2 separate regions of the Homo sapiens genome follow, and region 2 is linked to region 1. Evidence: fine-mapped expression QTL. A gene starts in region 1. The other region holds a variant in brackets. All regions are shown on one strand. Distances are between the middles of the regions. Region 1 holds the start of CAPNS1 (calpain small subunit 1). Region 2 overlaps WDR62 (WD repeat domain 62).

What was found.
Region 2: its variant is fine-mapped to the expression of CAPNS1 in whole blood (INTERVAL, PIP 0.98).

Annotation. Positions count from the first base shown.
Region 1 is chr19:36,136,609-36,144,931 of GRCh38, forward strand. CAPNS1 (calpain small subunit 1) reads left to right here and starts at 3,458. Exons shown (of 11, transcript NM_001749.4): 1 at 3,458-3,549; 2 at 4,389-4,612; 3 at 5,692-5,725; 4 at 6,044-6,133; 5 at 6,301-6,358; 6 at 6,456-6,520. The coding sequence starts at 4,404. LOC105372385 (a long non-coding RNA gene) reads right to left here and starts at 3,374. Exons shown (of 3, transcript XR_935954.3): 1 at 3,283-3,374. RefSeq lists enhancers at 3,725-3,774, 3,865-3,924.
Region 2 is chr19:36,094,605-36,102,927 of GRCh38, forward strand. It overlaps WDR62 (WD repeat domain 62), which reads left to right. Exons shown (of 32, transcript NM_001083961.2): 21 at 2,423-2,475; 22 at 4,795-5,013; 23 at 6,144-6,271; 24 at 6,610-6,713; 25 at 7,060-7,170; 26 at 7,410-7,547; 27 at 8,133-8,247. Among named protein-coding and RNA genes, the nearest start is that of OVOL3, 12 kb to the right of the region's middle. RefSeq lists an enhancer at 6,003-6,504. The variant T/C (reference allele first, on the strand shown) is at 4,823.

The sequences.
Region 1 (8,323 bases):
GAATGGCGTGAACCCGGGAGGCGGAGCTTGCAGCGAGCAGAGATCGCGCCACTGCACTCCAGCCTGGGCGACAGAGTGAGACTCCATCTCGAAAGCAAAACAAAACAAAAAACTGGGCGTTGATAGCCTAGAGACAGGATTTAAGCTGTGCATGTAGGGGAGGCACCCCATGGCATGAGTGGTACAGAGAGGAGGATAGAGACCTAACACCTGGGGCTGCCGGGAATAAGGGGTTGGGGGCCAGAACTAGATGACAATATGGTTACGATTGGCAGTGAGTGCCATGAGAAAGTACAAGTCATTTTGAAAGCATATAACTGGAAGCCTCACCTAGTCTCAGGTTGGGTGGAGACAGGGAGGTCTTTCTGGAAGAGATGACTCCTGAGGTGACACCTGCAGCCTGAGTAGCTACACAATCAGGCCAGAAAAAAAAAGGCAGCAGGGGAGTTCCTGGCCGAGGGCATGAGGGCTGGCAGCAAGTGAGCCTCGGGAGAGGGCAGAGAGCTGGAGCAGTCAGTCTGGCAGGGAGGGGTGTGGTGAGAAGGGAATCTGGATTAGTCATCACCAAAAGATCTGTGCCAAGCCCGGGTTCAGATCTGGTTCTGCCACCCTCCGTGACCCTGCCTTTCAGAATCTCCATTCTCTCTCCTGCCCTGCAGACAAGGCTTGTGTAGCAGTTACCTTGGCCTGGCCCCAGCAAGGCCTCAGGAAACATCAGCTGCAACTAGTTTTGTCTGTTGTGATGTTGTTATTTGACCTATTATATTAATTATATTATTAACGCATAAGGGTAGTGGTTAAGGATACAGGCTAGGGAGAGTGACTGCTTGGGTTTAACCTCAGAGTCGGTTTACTTATCTGTAAAATGGGGATAATAAATAGCATCTATGTCACAGGGCTGTTAGGAGAACAAGGGAACTGATGGACGTCAAGCACTTGGAGGAGTGGTTGATGGTTACTTGTTTTTGTATCTTTTTTTTTTTTTTGAGACAGTTTCGCTCTTGTTGCCCAAGCTAGAGTGCAATGGCACGATCTCGAGTCACTGCAACCTCTGCCTCCCGGGTTCAAGCGATTCTCCTGCCTCAGCCTCCCGAGTAGCTGGGATTACAGGCACACGCCACCACGCCTGGCTGATTTTTTGTATTTTTAGTAGAAACAGGATTTCACCATGTTAGTCAGGGTGGTCCCAAACTCCTGACCTCAGTGATCTGCCCACCTCGGCCTCCCAAAGTGCTGGGATTACAGGCGTGAGCCACCACACCTGGCCTGTTTTTGTACTATTTAAGGAAGACTAAGAGTCTACCAGCTGAGGAATACAGCTGGCCTCGAGGCTGAGGGAACAGCATGAGCACAGACACAGAGCTAATGGGGGCATTTACAAAGCATTTATCACCAATTTATTTATTTATTTATTGGAGACGGAGTTTCACTCTTGTTGCCCAGGCTGGAGTGCAATGGTGCAATCTTGGCTCACTGAAACCTCTGCCTACTGGGTTCAAGCGATTCTCCTGTCTCAGCCTCCCGAGTAGCTGGGATTACAGGTATGCACCACCACATCCGGCTAATTTTGTATTTTTTAGTAGAGACAGGGTTTCTCCATGTTAGTCAGACTGGTCTCGAACTCCCGACCTCAGGTGATCTGCCCGCCTCAGCATCCCAAAGTCCTGGGGTTATTGGCATGAGCCACTGTGCCCAGTATTTATTTGAGACAGAGTCTCGCTCTGTCACCCAGATTGTAGTGCAGTGGCATGATCTCGGCTCACTGCAACCCCCGCCTCCTGGGCTCTGGTGATCCCCCCACCTCAGTCTCTAGAGTAGCTGGGACTAGGCGCATGCCACCACATTCAGCTAATTTCTGTATTATTTGTAGAGACAAGGTCTCACTATATTGCCCAGGCTGGAGTCAAACTCCTGGGCTCAAGAGATCCTCCTGCCTCAGCCTCCCAAAATGCAGGGAATACAGGCATGAACCACTTCACCCAGCCACCACTTAAGTTTTTTTTTTAATAATCAGTATTGCTGCAGATATCATTTAATTTTGATAGGGGGCCTAGTGGTATGGAGCAACCCATGTTCCCATTTTACAGATGAGAAAATCGCTGCTCAGGAATATCAAGCCACTCTTTTGGGGTTGTGCAGTTATTACAGGGCACAGCCAGGATTCAACTCAAGCCTAGCCAGCCTGCAGGGTAGGGGATAAGAGCCAGCCAGCCTGCCTGGGGGCCAGATTTAGCTCCCCCCGATGAGTCCTGAAAAAGTACTGGACTCCCGTGGCTCATGCCTGTAATCCTAGCACTTTGGCAGGCCGAGGCAGGTGGATCACCTAAGATCAGGAGTTTGAGACCAGCCTGGCCAACATGGTGAAACCCCGTCTCTACTAAAAATACAAAAATTAGCTGGGTGTGGTGGTGCATGCCTGTAATCCCAGCTACTCGGGAGGCTGAGGCAGGAGAATCGCTTGAACCTGGGAGGCAGAGACTGCAGTGAGCTGAGATGGCGCCACTGCACCCCAGCCTGGGCAACAGAGCAAGACGCTGTCTCAAAACAAAAAAAAAAAAAAAGAAAAGAAAAGAAAAGAAACCAGGCTATGTAAAAATATTATTGTAAAAAATTAAATTAAATCAAAAAAAGGCCGGTAGCCCATACCTGTAATCCCAGTACCTCACAGTACTTTGGGAGGCTGAGGCAGGAGGACGGCTTGAGGCCCGGAGTTCAAGAGCAGCCTGGGCAACATAGCGAGACCTCCGTCTCTATTATGTAAAAACAATAATATTTTTTAAGTAAATAAAGAAACCAGGCCGTGGCCAAAGGAATCTTCCTGTGTCTGGGGCCTTCTTTAGAGGCTAGCATACTGAGGACACTCTTTGGGCCAGTCCAGGAAGGAATGATTCTGGTGGCCCCTGACTGGGGCGGGGGCGTGGTAAGGTTCGCCTGGGAGGCGGCGCAGGCGCTGCCTGCGGTTTGACTGCCATCCGGGCTGCTGCAGGCACTGGGAAAGGCAATCCAGCCTCAATCCTCGCCACAGACACGGGCGACTGTCCCCCAGCGTGTGAGTCAAACCATACTCCAGGCCTCCAGGAGGTGTTTGTCGCGACAACACCTGCAGAGGGCCCGTGCGGAGTCCCTTAGTGAGCGGACCGAAAACCGCCACCCTGGAAGGATATTGGCATGCCCTAGGGTGAAAATTCACACTACGACACTCGGGGGGTGGGTCCCCTCCGAGTTCTCGTCCGCGGGTGCCTCCACCCAGACCTGAGGGGTGTCGGGAAGACCCCCGCCTACCGAGTCAGGGCGGGATTAAGACCTCCGGCGCTGGAAACGCGTAGGGCGGGGCCCAGACCTGGATCCAGCTAGCCGGGCGGTGTGGGGTGCGCATGCGCAATGTCCGCTTCGGCTCTAGGACCGCGCGGGCGACAGCAGGGCCGCGGTGCAGTGTCCGACCCGAGAGTTGCGGCCTGAGTCACCGGCCCCGCCCTCCGGAGCCGGACGCTGCGGGAGGCCCGGGAGCGGCAGTGGAACCGACTCCCAGAACTCCGGACGTGTGCGGCGGTAAGCGCCCGGCCCGTACCCCCTCCGCACCCCGCAACTCCGACTTTGGCGGCCCCCAGACCCGGCGAAACCGTGAAGTCTCGGCCTCAGGAGCCCCCCAGATCCATGGTCTCAGATTCGAACCCTCAGACCTGTTCGATCTCCTTTTATGCCGTCCCGGGGACCCTTCTCCACCCTCTGTCTCATGATCCAAAATACAGGCCCATAGGTTTCAGAGATACCCTGTGAATTCTTCCTTGGGGTGTCCTGAACCGCGATCGTAGATCTGTGCCCCCAGTTCCAGCGGGGAACCCCATTGTCCGGGAACCCAGAGCTCACAGCCACGATCTTAGACCCGAGCCCACAGAGCCAGAGGTGACACTGGAATCCTGCCGCTGGGAATACCTAAATTCTCAAGCCCACATTTGGGATTTCCTAAACCCCGCCCTGGGGCCCTTTAGGCCGTGGATGTTTGCTCCGCGCCCATGACCTGCCAAGGACCTCTACATTCAGGCTGGGCTCTGGATCTCACATTCTAGCGCCCAGACATGTCGGGAACGCCTTACGCCAACTTGGGGTCCCCACCAAGAGAACCCCCACCAGATCTGCACCCTCCCCTTCACGCGTGCACCCAGTCCAGGCTCCCTCAAGCCCCACGGGTGCCTTTTAGACCTGAGGAGGTTGCAAACCTGATCCCCCATACCTGCCCCACCCATCCGCGGACAACCCGCCCTCGCAAACTCAGACCCCCACCCGGAGGCTTCAGATTCCTCCCAGGTCCAGCTGCCGGAAATGCGTGTTTGAAGGGAGGGTGTGGGCTCAGGGGCGAAGCACCCACTGGTCCCCTTTTTTCCCCCCAGCAGTGAGTCGCAGCCATGTTCCTGGTTAACTCGTTCTTGAAGGGCGGCGGCGGCGGCGGCGGGGGAGGCGGGGGCCTGGGTGGGGGCCTGGGAAATGTGCTTGGAGGCCTGATCAGCGGGGCCGGGGGCGGCGGCGGCGGCGGCGGCGGCGGCGGCGGTGGTGGAGGCGGCGGTGGCGGTGGAACGGCCATGCGCATCCTAGGCGGAGTCATCAGCGCCATCAGGTAAGGCGGAGACTATCAGAGGGGCGGGGCCTGGGAATGGGAGGAGCCTCAGTGAGGCGTGGTCTGGGAGGGGCGTGGTCTAAAAATAGAATAGGATTAACCTGGAGGCTAACCTGGGTACATGAATTAGGCCGGGGAGGCCTGGTTTGAGAGTTCTGCTGTAAGGGGGTGGACCCCAGTGAGGCGGATATCAGTCATTGGGGGCGGTGCTTGATATGGGAGTAGTCTGATTGTGTGGGACCAGGACAATGTGGTCCTGAGGGGACTGATGTGGAGTTTTGGCGGGTGGGGCTTATGGGTCTGGGCTCAGCCTGCATTGGCTAACCTGGAGATGAACGTTAAAGGTGCGGAGCCAATGCGTCTGAGTGACATTTTACGGAAGGGGCTTGACTTATGAGTGTGGTCAGAGGTTTTAGGTGGGTTAATGAGGAGGTGAGCCCAGGAGGAAGCAAGACCTAATGGGGTAGGGTAAATGGCCCAGAATGGGCTGGGCTTGCTGGGAACTGGCTGGATTAATGGAGAAAAATGCCCTGGTAGGGATAGGGCAGGTTGGCTTAATTAGCCACGGCCACTTAGCAGTGATCCCTTGAAGGGGCGGGGACCAATGGCTGGGGTAGGATGTTGGGAAGACGGGCATTTAGGAAGCGGGCCATGGAGTAGGGTCTTGGGCAGATGGCACCTGAGGAGGATAAGGCCTTGGGAAGCTGGGGCAGAGCCTCTATGAAGTGAGCCCTCCAAGGGGCGGGGTCTTTTGATTCTACGTGGGATTTTTTAGGTTTAGGGTGGCCAAGATGACTGAAATCTGCCACTGGGTAGGTGTGCCTGGCAGGAGGGGAGCCTCCCAGGGGACCGGTCTCTGGGTTTCCTCGAGGGTGGGGTTGGCCTGAGGAAGGGAGAAGAGGGGCACGACCAGGGCAGTGTGGATTGGGACAGATGAGGACAAGAACAAATGAAAGGCACAGCAACCAAGTAAGGAAGATAACGGCTGGGGTCTGGAGCGTTGGGGCTGATGGTTCTGTAGTGCTGCCCGTTGGAGGCCCCGCCCCTGGCACTAACCCCTCCCCCTTATCTCTTCGCAGCGAGGCGGCTGCGCAGTACAACCCGGAGCCCCCGGTAAGCCCCCTCTGCAACCAGACCCCCTTCTCCTGCCAAGGCCTCTTCGAGGTCCCATCCCTGTTCCTGTAGAGAAGCCCCACCTTCCTCCCCTTCTTGTGAAATTCCTCTGCCAGTTCCTCCCATGCCGTGTCTGCAGCTTCGCCATGGGTCTTAGCCATGCCCCACATACGTGCACCCCATTCACTACCACCCCTCATTCTTTTCCTCATCAAGCTGCCCAGCCCACTCTGACTTCCCCACCCAGGGTACCTGGGTTTGGGGAGCCGTCCTGGCCGGGTTCCCCTCCCCCTGCTCTGAGCTCTCCTCCCTTTGCAGCCCCCACGCACACATTACTCCAACATTGAGGCCAACGAGAGTGAGGAGGTCCGGCAGTTCCGGAGACTCTTTGCCCAGCTGGCTGGAGATGTAAGTAACCTGGGGTCCCTGGCCCCGTCCTAACCGTTCCATCCCTTCCCTTGTGGCTGCCCTTGCACACACACCCTTGACCATGACAATCCCAGTGTTCCCATTCTCCATGACATTCTCAGACCCCTTTCAGTCACCCCTGACCTGCCCCTAACTTCCGCCCGCAGGACATGGAGGTCAGCGCCACAGAACTCATGAACATTCTCAATAAGGTTGTGACACGACGTAAGTGACCGGGGTTAAGGAATAGGGTAGATTCAGAGGCAGAGGGGTCAGAGAGGATTTGACCTCTGGCCTCTGACTTTCAACCTGTTACCCACAGACCCTGATCTGAAGACTGATGGTTTTGGCATTGACACATGTCGCAGCATGGTGGCCGTGATGGATGTATCCTTGGGGGCAGTGTGGGAGAGGCCCTGGGTGGACAGAGAGTTTTTTGAGAGTATGTTTGGGAAGCCAACATGTAGCTTTCATATCCACAGATGTGGAAATGCATTCATCAGAACACAGTCACCTGCAGACATGTGGCGGTAAATCATAACAATGCCAGCTGTCACAGCTGGCACTTTAATTATATAAAGTGACCGAACCGTCATAACCACCCTGTTGGACAGGCACAATTATTATATTCCATTTTACAGAAGAGGAAACTGAGGCTCAGTTTCCTGAAAGAAGCAGTCATTTGTCTCAAGTTATAGATAAAGGTCAGGCATGGTGGCTCATGCCTGTAATCCCAACACTTTGGGAGGCTAAGGTGGGCAGATCACCTGAGGTCAGGAGTTTGAGACCAGCCTGGCCAACATGGTGAAACCCCATCTCTATTAAAAATACAAAAATTGGCCAGGCACGGTGGCTCACACCTGTAATCCCAGCACTTTGGGAGGCCGAGGCGGGCGGATCACGAGATCAGGAGATTGAGACCATCCTGGCTAACACAGTGAAACCCTGTCTCTACCAAAAAAAAAAAAAAAATTAGCCGGGCGTAGTGGCGGGCGCCTGTAGTCCCAGCTATTCGGGAGGCTGAAGCAGGAGAATGGCGTGAACCCGAGAGGAGGAGCTTGCAGTGAGCCGAGATCGCGCCACTGCACTCCAGCCTGGGCGACAGAGCCAGACTCTGTCTCAAAAAATAAAATAAAAATAAAAATAAAAATAGGCCGGGCGCCGTGGCTCACGCCTGTAATCCCAGCACTTTGGGAGGCCGAGGCGGGCGGATCACGAGGTCAGGAGATCGAGACCATCCTGGCTAACACGGTGAAACCCTGTCTCTACTAAAAATACAAAAAAATTAGCCGGGTGCAGTGGTGAGCGCCTGTAGTCCCAGCTACTCGGGAGGCTGAGGCAGGAGAATGGCGTGAACCTGGGAGGCGGAGCTTTGCAGTGAGCCGAGATCGCGCCACTGCACTCCAGCCTAGGCGACAGAGAGAGACTCCGTCTCAAAAAAAAAAAAAAAGAAAAAAAAAGAAAAATAACAATAACAAAAATTAGCTGGGCGTGGTGGTGCACGCCTGTAGTCCCAGCTACTCGGGAGTCCCAGCTACTCAAGCAGGAGAATTGCTTGAACCCGGGAGGCGGAGGTTGCAGTGAGCAGAGGTTTCGTCACTGCACTCCAGTCTGTGGACTCAGGTCTTTTGGGCTTGAGAACCCACGTTTATAACAGCCACATGCGCATATACACACACACACACCTAAGAGCACACCCACATACGTGAAGGTGTATGAGGCAGTGTGCACAGGGACACACGTGTTATCTGTACATGGGCCAGCCATTAGCTGATCTTGGATACATGCATATTTTTATTTATTTTTGTTTTAAAAAATATTTTATAGAGAAAAGCTTTCACTATATTGACCTGGCAAGTCTCAAACTCCAGACCTTAAGCAATCCTTCCGCCTTGGCCTCCCAAAGTGTTGGGATTACAAGCTTGAGACACTGCGCCTGGCCTCATGCACATTTAACACATAGGGCAAACAGACACATACATAATATACATGTCATGTAATCACAGACATATTGCATAGAGCAAAGCAATCCCAACTCTACCTCTTAACCAGGTTATTGAACCGCTCTGTGCCTCAGTTTCTCTCTCTGTAAAATGGGTGAGTGATAATGGTGATACCGAATCGGAACTACATCCAAAAGGTTTAGCACAGTGTATAGCGCATAGTATGTGGTCTGTACACATTAGCTCT
Region 2 (8,323 bases), 42 kb before region 1:
TCAGGCTTAGCGTGGTGGCTCACACCTGGAATTTTAGCACTTTGGGAGGCTGAAATGGGAGGGTCACTTGAGGCCAGGAGGTCGAGACCAGCCTGGGCAACATAGCGAGAGCCCATCTATGCAAAAAAAAAATTTTTTAAAGAAATTAGCCAGGCATAGTGGCACACATCTGTAGTCCCAACTACATGGGAGGCTGAGGCAGGAGGATCACTTGAGGCCAGGAGTTTGAGACCAGCCTGGCACGTACCAAGACCCCGTTCCTACAAAAAGAAAAAAATTAGCCAGGCCTGGTGGTGCACACCTATAGTCCCAGCTACCTGAAAGGCTGAGGCAGGAAGATCGCTTGAGCCCAGGAATTCCATGTTATAATGAGCTATGATTGCACCACTGCACTCCAGCCTGAATAATAGAGTGAGATCCTGTCTGTAGAAAAAGAAAGAAACTCAATAATCATATCAGTCAAGACTCTTTCAGTATAAAAGCAACCAGGCTTAAGTCAGGAAGAGGATTTTTTGGTGCCTGAAAATTGGAGAGGATTAGCTTTCAGCATGGCTAGATCCAGATAGACAGATGATGTTAAAAGGAAGATTTTTTTTTGTATCTTTTGGCTCTGCTTTTCTTCATGTTGGCTTTGCTGATGGACAGACTGTCCCTTTACTAGGGGAAAAGATACCCCCAGCAACTACAGGCTTATAAAACTCCATAGAGAATAGAACACCTCTTTCCTATAGTAGCTCAAGCAGAGTCTTAGGGTTGTGTGGCTCATGTTTCTGGTATCTGCTGTACCCACTTCTGAGCCAGTTGTTGTAGCTGTCCACATCTCAGCATGTGATCACTTCTGAGGGCAGAGACTGTAGTCAGCTCCATCCACTCACACCACCTGACCAGGCATCAAAGATGTGTTTGAGGCCGGGTGTGGTAGCTCACGCCTGTAATCCCAGCACTCAGGGAGGCCGAGGCGGGTGGATCACCTGAGGTCAGGAGTTCGAGACCAGCCTGGCCAACATGGTGAAACCCCATGTCTGCTAAAAATACAAAAATTAGCTGGGCGTGATGGCGTGCGCCTGTAATAGCAGCTACTTGGGAAGCTGAGACAGGAGAATTGCTTGAACCTGGGAGACGGAGGTTGCAGTGAGCTGAGACTGCGCCACTGCACTCCAGCCTGGGTGACAAAGCAAGACTCCGTCTCAAAAAATAAATGAACAAGTAAAAATAAATTGAATTATGTTGCGGATATTGTCCGGAATCTTTTTCCTCTGCAAAGTCTCTCATCTACCTGTATGTTGGTGAATACAAAGCAGACGCCTGCGAAATTTTAAGTTATTCCCCTCCAGGTGGCCATTTAGGTTTTTCCTGATTGCACATCACTGTTAATGAGGCTATGGAGTGGAGACCACTCCTAAGCCTCCTCGAAATGTGAGGACTTCTCCAGGAGAGAGTCTGAGGAGTAGCACCACTGGATCCTGGAGTTATTTTATTTTACTTTAAAAAAGTTGTTTTATTATTTTATTTCACTATTTTTGTTGCCCAGGCTGGAGTTCAATAGCACAATCATAGCTCACTGTAGCCTTGACCTCCTGGGCTCAAGCAATTTTCCCTCCTTAGCCTGTGGAGTAGCTGGGACCACAGGCTCAAGCTCCCACACCCAGCTAAATATGTGTGTATCAGGGGATGGTGTGTGTAGAGACAAGGTCTCACTGTGTTGCCCAGGCTGGTCTCAAACCCCTGGCCTGAAGTATCCTCCCACCTCGACCTCTCAAAGTGGTGGGATTACAGGCTTGAGCCAGTATGCCTGGCCTTTATTTTAAAAGAGAACCCCGGCTGGGCGCAGTGGCTCACACCTGTAATCCCAGCACTTTGGGAGGCCGAGGCGAGCGGATCACGAGTTCAGGAGATCGAGACCATCCTGGCTAACATGGTGAAACCCCGTCTCTACTAAAAATACAAAAAAAAAAAATTAGCCGGGCATGGTGGCGGGCACCTGTAGTCCCAGCTACTTGGGAGGCTGAGGCAGGAGAATGGCATGAACCCGGGAGGTGGAGGTTGCAGTGAGCCGAGATCGCGCCACTGCACTCCAGCCTGGGCAACAGAGCGAGACTCCGTCTCAAAAAAAGAAAAAAAAAGAGAACCCCAAGAGTTCTCCAAACCCAGTTACTGCCCCACCCTGCATTGCATTAGGCTCTCCATTGTCCCCACACTTTTCCTGCCATCCTTTGGTAGTATTAAGCTTTTTCACCTCGGTCAGTCTCGTGAGTCAAATATCGCATCCCACGGTTTAAGTTTGCATTTCCCTAACCCCCGGTGCTGTTGAGCCTTCTGACTTCTGGGTTGTGGTGTTGCCTCTTTGGGGACTGCCCGGTTATGTATGTGGCCTGTTTGTTGGGTTGTTTGTCCTCTTTTCATGGATTCTGTGTCTTTCCAGATCCTCGTTGCCTGCTAACCAACGGCAAGCTGCCACTGTGGGCAAAGCGGCTGGTAAGTCTTCAGGGAGAGGGTTGCTCAGGGGCTGGCAGAGGAAACGCCTCCCCAGCTCTGCCTTCTGGAAGCCCTTTTTCCTTTCCATGTCCCTCTTTTCCCTGGAGAAGCCCTGTCATCCTTCCAGGCTCAGTGAGACAGCCCTTTGTTCATGATCAGTGCTCTCTGCCAGGCATTGTTCTGGATGTCAGGGACACAACAGTGAGCAAGGGAAACAAAAGTCTCTCCCTTCACAGGCTCACTTGCCTGTGTGGGCGAGGAACAATATCCCCATTAAATAAGTAAATGACGTAGTAGGTTGGGTGCTGATAAGTGCTGTGGAGGGAAAAGAATCAAGAAGGAAAATACGTCAGCCAGGTGCAGTGATACGTGTCTGTGGTCCCAGCTACTCAGGAGGCTGAAGTGGGAGGATCACTTGAGCCCAGGAGGTTGAGGCTGTAGGGAACTGAGAAGGCACCACTACTACACTCCAGCGTGGGCAACAGAGTGAGATCCTGTCTCAAAAAAGAGAAAAAGAACAGGGGCCCAGCACGGTGGTTCATGCCTGTGATCCCAGCACTTTGGGAGGCCAAGGCAGGTTGATCACTTGAGCCCAGGAGTTCAAGACCAGCCTGAGCAATATAGTGAGACCCCATCTCTACAAAAAATAAAAAAATTAGCCAGGCATGGTGGTGCATACCTGTAGTCCCAGGTACTCAGGAGGCTGAAGTGGGAGGATTGTTTGGGCCAGGGAGGTCGAGGATGCAGGGAGCTGCACTCCACAGCACTCCAGCATGAGCAACAGAGCCAACACTTTGTCTCATAAAAAAAATAAAAATAAAAAAGAAAATAAGGAGTGTTGGGGGGTGTCAGTTTTAAGTAAACAGGAAAGGCCTCATTGGGAAAATGATGTTTGAGCAGAGTTGAAGCAAGTGAGACAGGCAGATACTGGGACGAATGTTCTAGTCATAACAGCCTATACGTGTAAAAGCCACGAGGCCAGGAGCTCGAGACCAGCTTAGGCAACATAATGAGACTCCCATCTCTACAAAAGATTAAAAATAGCCAGGCATGGTGGTGCACACCCATAGTCCCAGCTACTCAGGAGCCTGAGGCAGGAGGATCACTTCAGCCCAGGAGTTGGAGGCTGCAGTGATCGTGCTACTGCACTCCAGCTTGGATGGCAGAACGAGACCTTGTCTCTTAAAAAAAAAAAAAGAAAAAGAGACCGGGTGCGGTGGCTCACGCCTGTAATCCCAGCACTTTGGGAGGCCAAGGCGGGTGTAATCCAAGGTCAAGAGATCAAGATCATCCCGGTCAACATGGTAAAACCCCGTCTCTACTAAAAATACAAAAATTAGCTGGGCATGGTGGTGCATGCCTATAGTCCCAACTACTGGTAAGGCTGAGGCAGGAGAATCACTTGAACCCAGGAGGCAGAGGTTACAGTGAACCGAAATCATGCCACTGCACTCCAGCCTGGCGACAGAGTGAGACTCCCTCTCAAAAAAAAAAAAAAAGAAAGACAATGTGGATTATAAGAGACAGAATAAGAGAGGTGAATGAAGGATGATCCCAAGGTTGGGGCATGAGTAACTGGAAAAAACAACTGAAACAGGGAATCTTTAGGAGGAGCAGGTTTGTGCAGAGGAAATGAGTTGAGTTGTCAGCATGTTAACTTTGAAATACCTACCAGACATCCATACAGAAATGTAGAGCAGTCACATGTGCAATTCTGAAGTTTCAGAGAAAAGTTCATGAATCCCAGCTGGGCATTCCCAGCACTTTGGGAGGCCGAAACAGGATTCCTTGAGCCCAAGGGTTTGAGACCAGCCTGAGCAACATAGTGAGAGTCCACCTCTACCAAAAACCAACAAAATGGGCTGGGCGCAGTGGCTCATGCCTGTAATCCCAGTACTTTGGGAAGCCGAGGCGGGCGGATCACTTGAGGTCAGCAGTTTGAGACCAGCCTGGCCAACATGGCAAAACCCCATCTCTACTAAAAATACAAAAATTAGCCAGGTGTGGTGGTGGGCACCTGTAATCCCAGCTACTCTGGAGGCTGAGACAGGAGAATTGCTTGAAACTGAGAGGTGGAGGTTGCAGTGAGCCAAGGTCACGCCACTGCACTCCAGCCTGGGAGACAGAGCAAGACTTCGTCTCAAAAAAAAAAAAAAAAAAAAAAACAGAGAAAGGTTCACGCTGGAGATATGTACCTGGAAGTTGTTTCTGAATGGTATTGAAAGCCAAGAGTCCAGATGGGCTGTGTGAAATGTCCGTGTCGCTCCCTGCAGTGAGTGAGCACTCAGCCAGTTGCCTGACTGTCCGATATCCTTCAAGCTAGGGGACGATGATGTGGCAGATGGCT[T/C]GGCCTTCCACGCCAAGCGCAGCTACCAGCCCCACGGCCGCTGGGCAGAGCGGGCCGGCCAAGAGCCCCTCAAGACCATCCTGGATGCCCAGGACCTGGATTGCTACTTTACCCCCATGAAGCCCGAGAGTCTGGAGAACTCCATTCTGGATTCACTGGAGCCACAGAGCCTGGCCAGCCTGCTGAGTGAGGTACACACTTCCACCGCAGCCTGGCCCATAGCCCCGGCACCGTGACGGCCCCAGGGCCTGGCGCCTTAGGCTGACTCCCACTCCATGGGGGCAGGGAGGATTACATGAGATGGTGAAGGGCAGGAGGGTGAGCCCCAGGTCTGTTGCACAGCAAGACTTCCCAAGGCAGACAGGGAGTCTTTGGAAAGTGGGTCACTTGGGGGTTAAGAGCTTGGATGCTAGAGCAGGCTTGTACCCAAGTGGGGGACATTTGGGTAGATCGAGCCCTGACCCTACCCATTCCTGTTGTGTGACCTGGAGTAAGAGGCTTACCTCTTTGGGCTTCAGTCTTCTAAAAAGTAGTCATAATGGGGTCAGGGGCAGTGGCTAACACCTGTAATCCCAGCATTTGGGGAGGCCAAGGCAGGAGGATTACTTAACGATCACTTGAGGAGTTCAAGGCCAGCCTAGGCAACGTAGCAAGATCCCACCTCTACAAAAATATTTTTTAAATTTTTTTGTTTGTTTTGTTTTTAAATGGTAATAACAATCTCTTCTGCCCCAGAGGGCTTTTACAGGAATCCATGCTTAAGTATAGGGCCTGGGCTCTTAGAGGTGCCCGTGCAACTTTAGCTCTTTCTCTACTATTTTCCAAACAAAATTCATTTTTATCCTATCCTATAATTTGTCATCTTCATTGTGGTATAATATACATCCAGTAACATGCACAGATTTTAGGTATACAGCTTGATGAACTATCTGTGTAATTCACGTGTGTCCACTACCCTGGGCAAAATCTGGAGTGTTTTCTACCTCATAGAAACCCCCTTCTGCCCTTCCCAGTCAGGTCCCCGCACCAGGATAACCAGTGTTCTGACCTCTCACCAAGGACTGGGTTTCCTATTCTTGAACTTGATATAAATAGACACGTAGAGGGTTGGGCCTCCTATTTTTGGTGCCACACCTCTTCCTCATCTGTAAAGGGACTGATAATGCAGGGGCAGACCAGGACAAGCTGGTTGCGAGTGGAGGGCATGGCACAGGCCCTGGTTCACAGCCTCCAGCAGTGGGGCTGCTGGCATGGTTCCTGGCGCACTGTTGGTGGCCCCAGCCATGCCTGCCTCAGAATGGCTGTGCTGTCTTCCCCATAGTCAGAGAGTCCCCAGGAAGCTGGCCGCGGGCACCCCTCCTTCCTGCCCCAGCAGAAGGAATCATCTGAGGCCAGTGAGCTCATCCTCTACTCTCTGGAGGCAGAAGTGACAGTCACAGGGACAGACAGGTGGGTGTCCTTTCCACCAAGGGAGCCTTAGTTGGAGGAACCCCCAGCTGATAGCTGCATCCTGGAAGAAGTGCTCTCTGCCTTCCCAGTGGGCTTGTGGGAGTGGGGACAGTTGAGGCCTGGATGGGGCAGGAGCCCAGCCTTAGTTCCCTGGTTCCAGGTGGGGTACAGGAGGGCCTGACCTGGGGGAAGGAGGGGGCATTTGGAGGAGGCGGGGAGGCTGTCGCAGTGCTCCTGCAGGAGCAGCGGGTACAGGTGCCTAGGGGCTCCGGGTGGGGCTAGCTGTTGAGTCTCCAGCTGAAGTCCTTGTTCCCTCTCTGCCCCCACTGGCACTGCAGCCAGTATTGCAGGAAGGAGGTGGAGGCCGGGCCTGGAGACCAGCAGGGCGACTCCTACCTCAGGGTGTCCTCCGACAGCCCAAAGGACCAGAGCCCGCCTGAGGGTGAGTGCAGGGCAGGCAGGGACCCTGTGACAGTCTGTGCGTTCAGCCAAGCCCCTTTCTGGGCACCGATGGTGACTTTGACCCAGTACTGAAGCTCAGAGTCTGTCGAGGAAGACACATGTGGTCCCTGCTGCTGCCTGAGGATTCTGGGCCCAGCTGCCTACAGCTGAGAGCCCAGCTCTGCCACCTCCTTGATGTGGAACTTCCCTTATTCATAAAATGGGGGGCAGCTGCTCTTACCATCCCTCCTCCAGATGGGGAAACTGAGCCCAGGGAAGGGTAGCCCTGGCCCTGGCTCACCAGAATGGTCAGGCTGTGGGCTCCTGACCCCGACTCTGTCCTTCAGACTCGGGGGAGTCAGAGGCCGACCTGGAGTGCAGCTTCGCAGCCATCCACTCCCCAGCTCCGCCTCCTGACCCTGCCCCTCGGTTTGCCACGTCGCTGCCCCATTTCCCAGGTAAGCAGGGGCCAGACACGCAGGGGACTCGCTGCTCGGGCCTGGCTTAGGGCCAGTCACAATGTCTAAGCACAGGCCCTGCACTTGGAGCCCACTGAGCCTGGAAGACGGGGATCCCTGCTTCTCAGCCTGCGGGCAACAGGGCAGGGATGGGTGGGGCCCGCTTTCTCCATTTCAGGTGGCGTCTGCTGTGACTCATGGTGTTGGCTCCTCTTGTCCCTCCCCTCCTTCCCTGTCAGGATGCGCAGGTCCCACAGAAGATGAGCTGTCCCTGCCCGAGGGACCCAGCGTCCCCAGCAGCTCCCTACCCCAGACTCCGGAGCAGGAGAAGTTCCTCCGCCACCACTTTGAGACACTGACTGAGTCCCCCTGCAGAGGTAGGGCCCTGCCTCACCCACACCTGCCGAGGCCGTCTGTGCAGCCTGGGCACAGCATTGGCGTCCCTGGAGTTGGCTCCCCAGCAGGGCCAGGAGGGTGAGTGGAGAGCAACTGCTTCGTTTTTTTTGAGACGGAGTCTCGCTCTGTTGCCAGGCTGGAGTGCGGTGGCCCAATCTTGGCTCACTGCAACCTCCGACTCCCTGGTTCAAGCAATTCTCCTGCCTCAGCCTCCTGAGTAGCTGGGATTATAGGCATCCACAACCACGCCCTGCTAATTTTTTGTATTTTTAGTAGAGATGAGGTTTCACCATGTTGGCCAGACTGGTCTCAAACTCCTGCCTCAGATGATCTGCCCGCCTTGGCCTCCCAAAGTGCTGGGATTACAGGCGTGAGCCACCGTGCCCGGCCCACTGCTTCACTCTTGACCTGAGCCTCACGATGCCTCCTCACCCACTGCCCCTGCTCGTACCCTGTGTCTGTACATAAGGGTTTCTGGGGAGTGCCCCGCTGGGCTGTGGGCTGGCCTAGGGCCAGGGCTGCTCGGCGGGAAGGGTTATGAGGGTCCCCTCGGGATCTTCCCCTAGAGCTCTTCCCCGCAGCTCTGGGAGACGTGGAGGCCTCTGAAGCTGAAGACCACTTCTTCAACCCACGCCTGAGTATCTCCACGCAGTTCCTCTCAAGCCTCCAGAAGGCATCCAGGTAGAAGCTGGCCAAGCACTGCCCACCCTCTGGCTCCTCAACAGTGCCCCAGGGCAGGCTGAATGAGAATCATCCC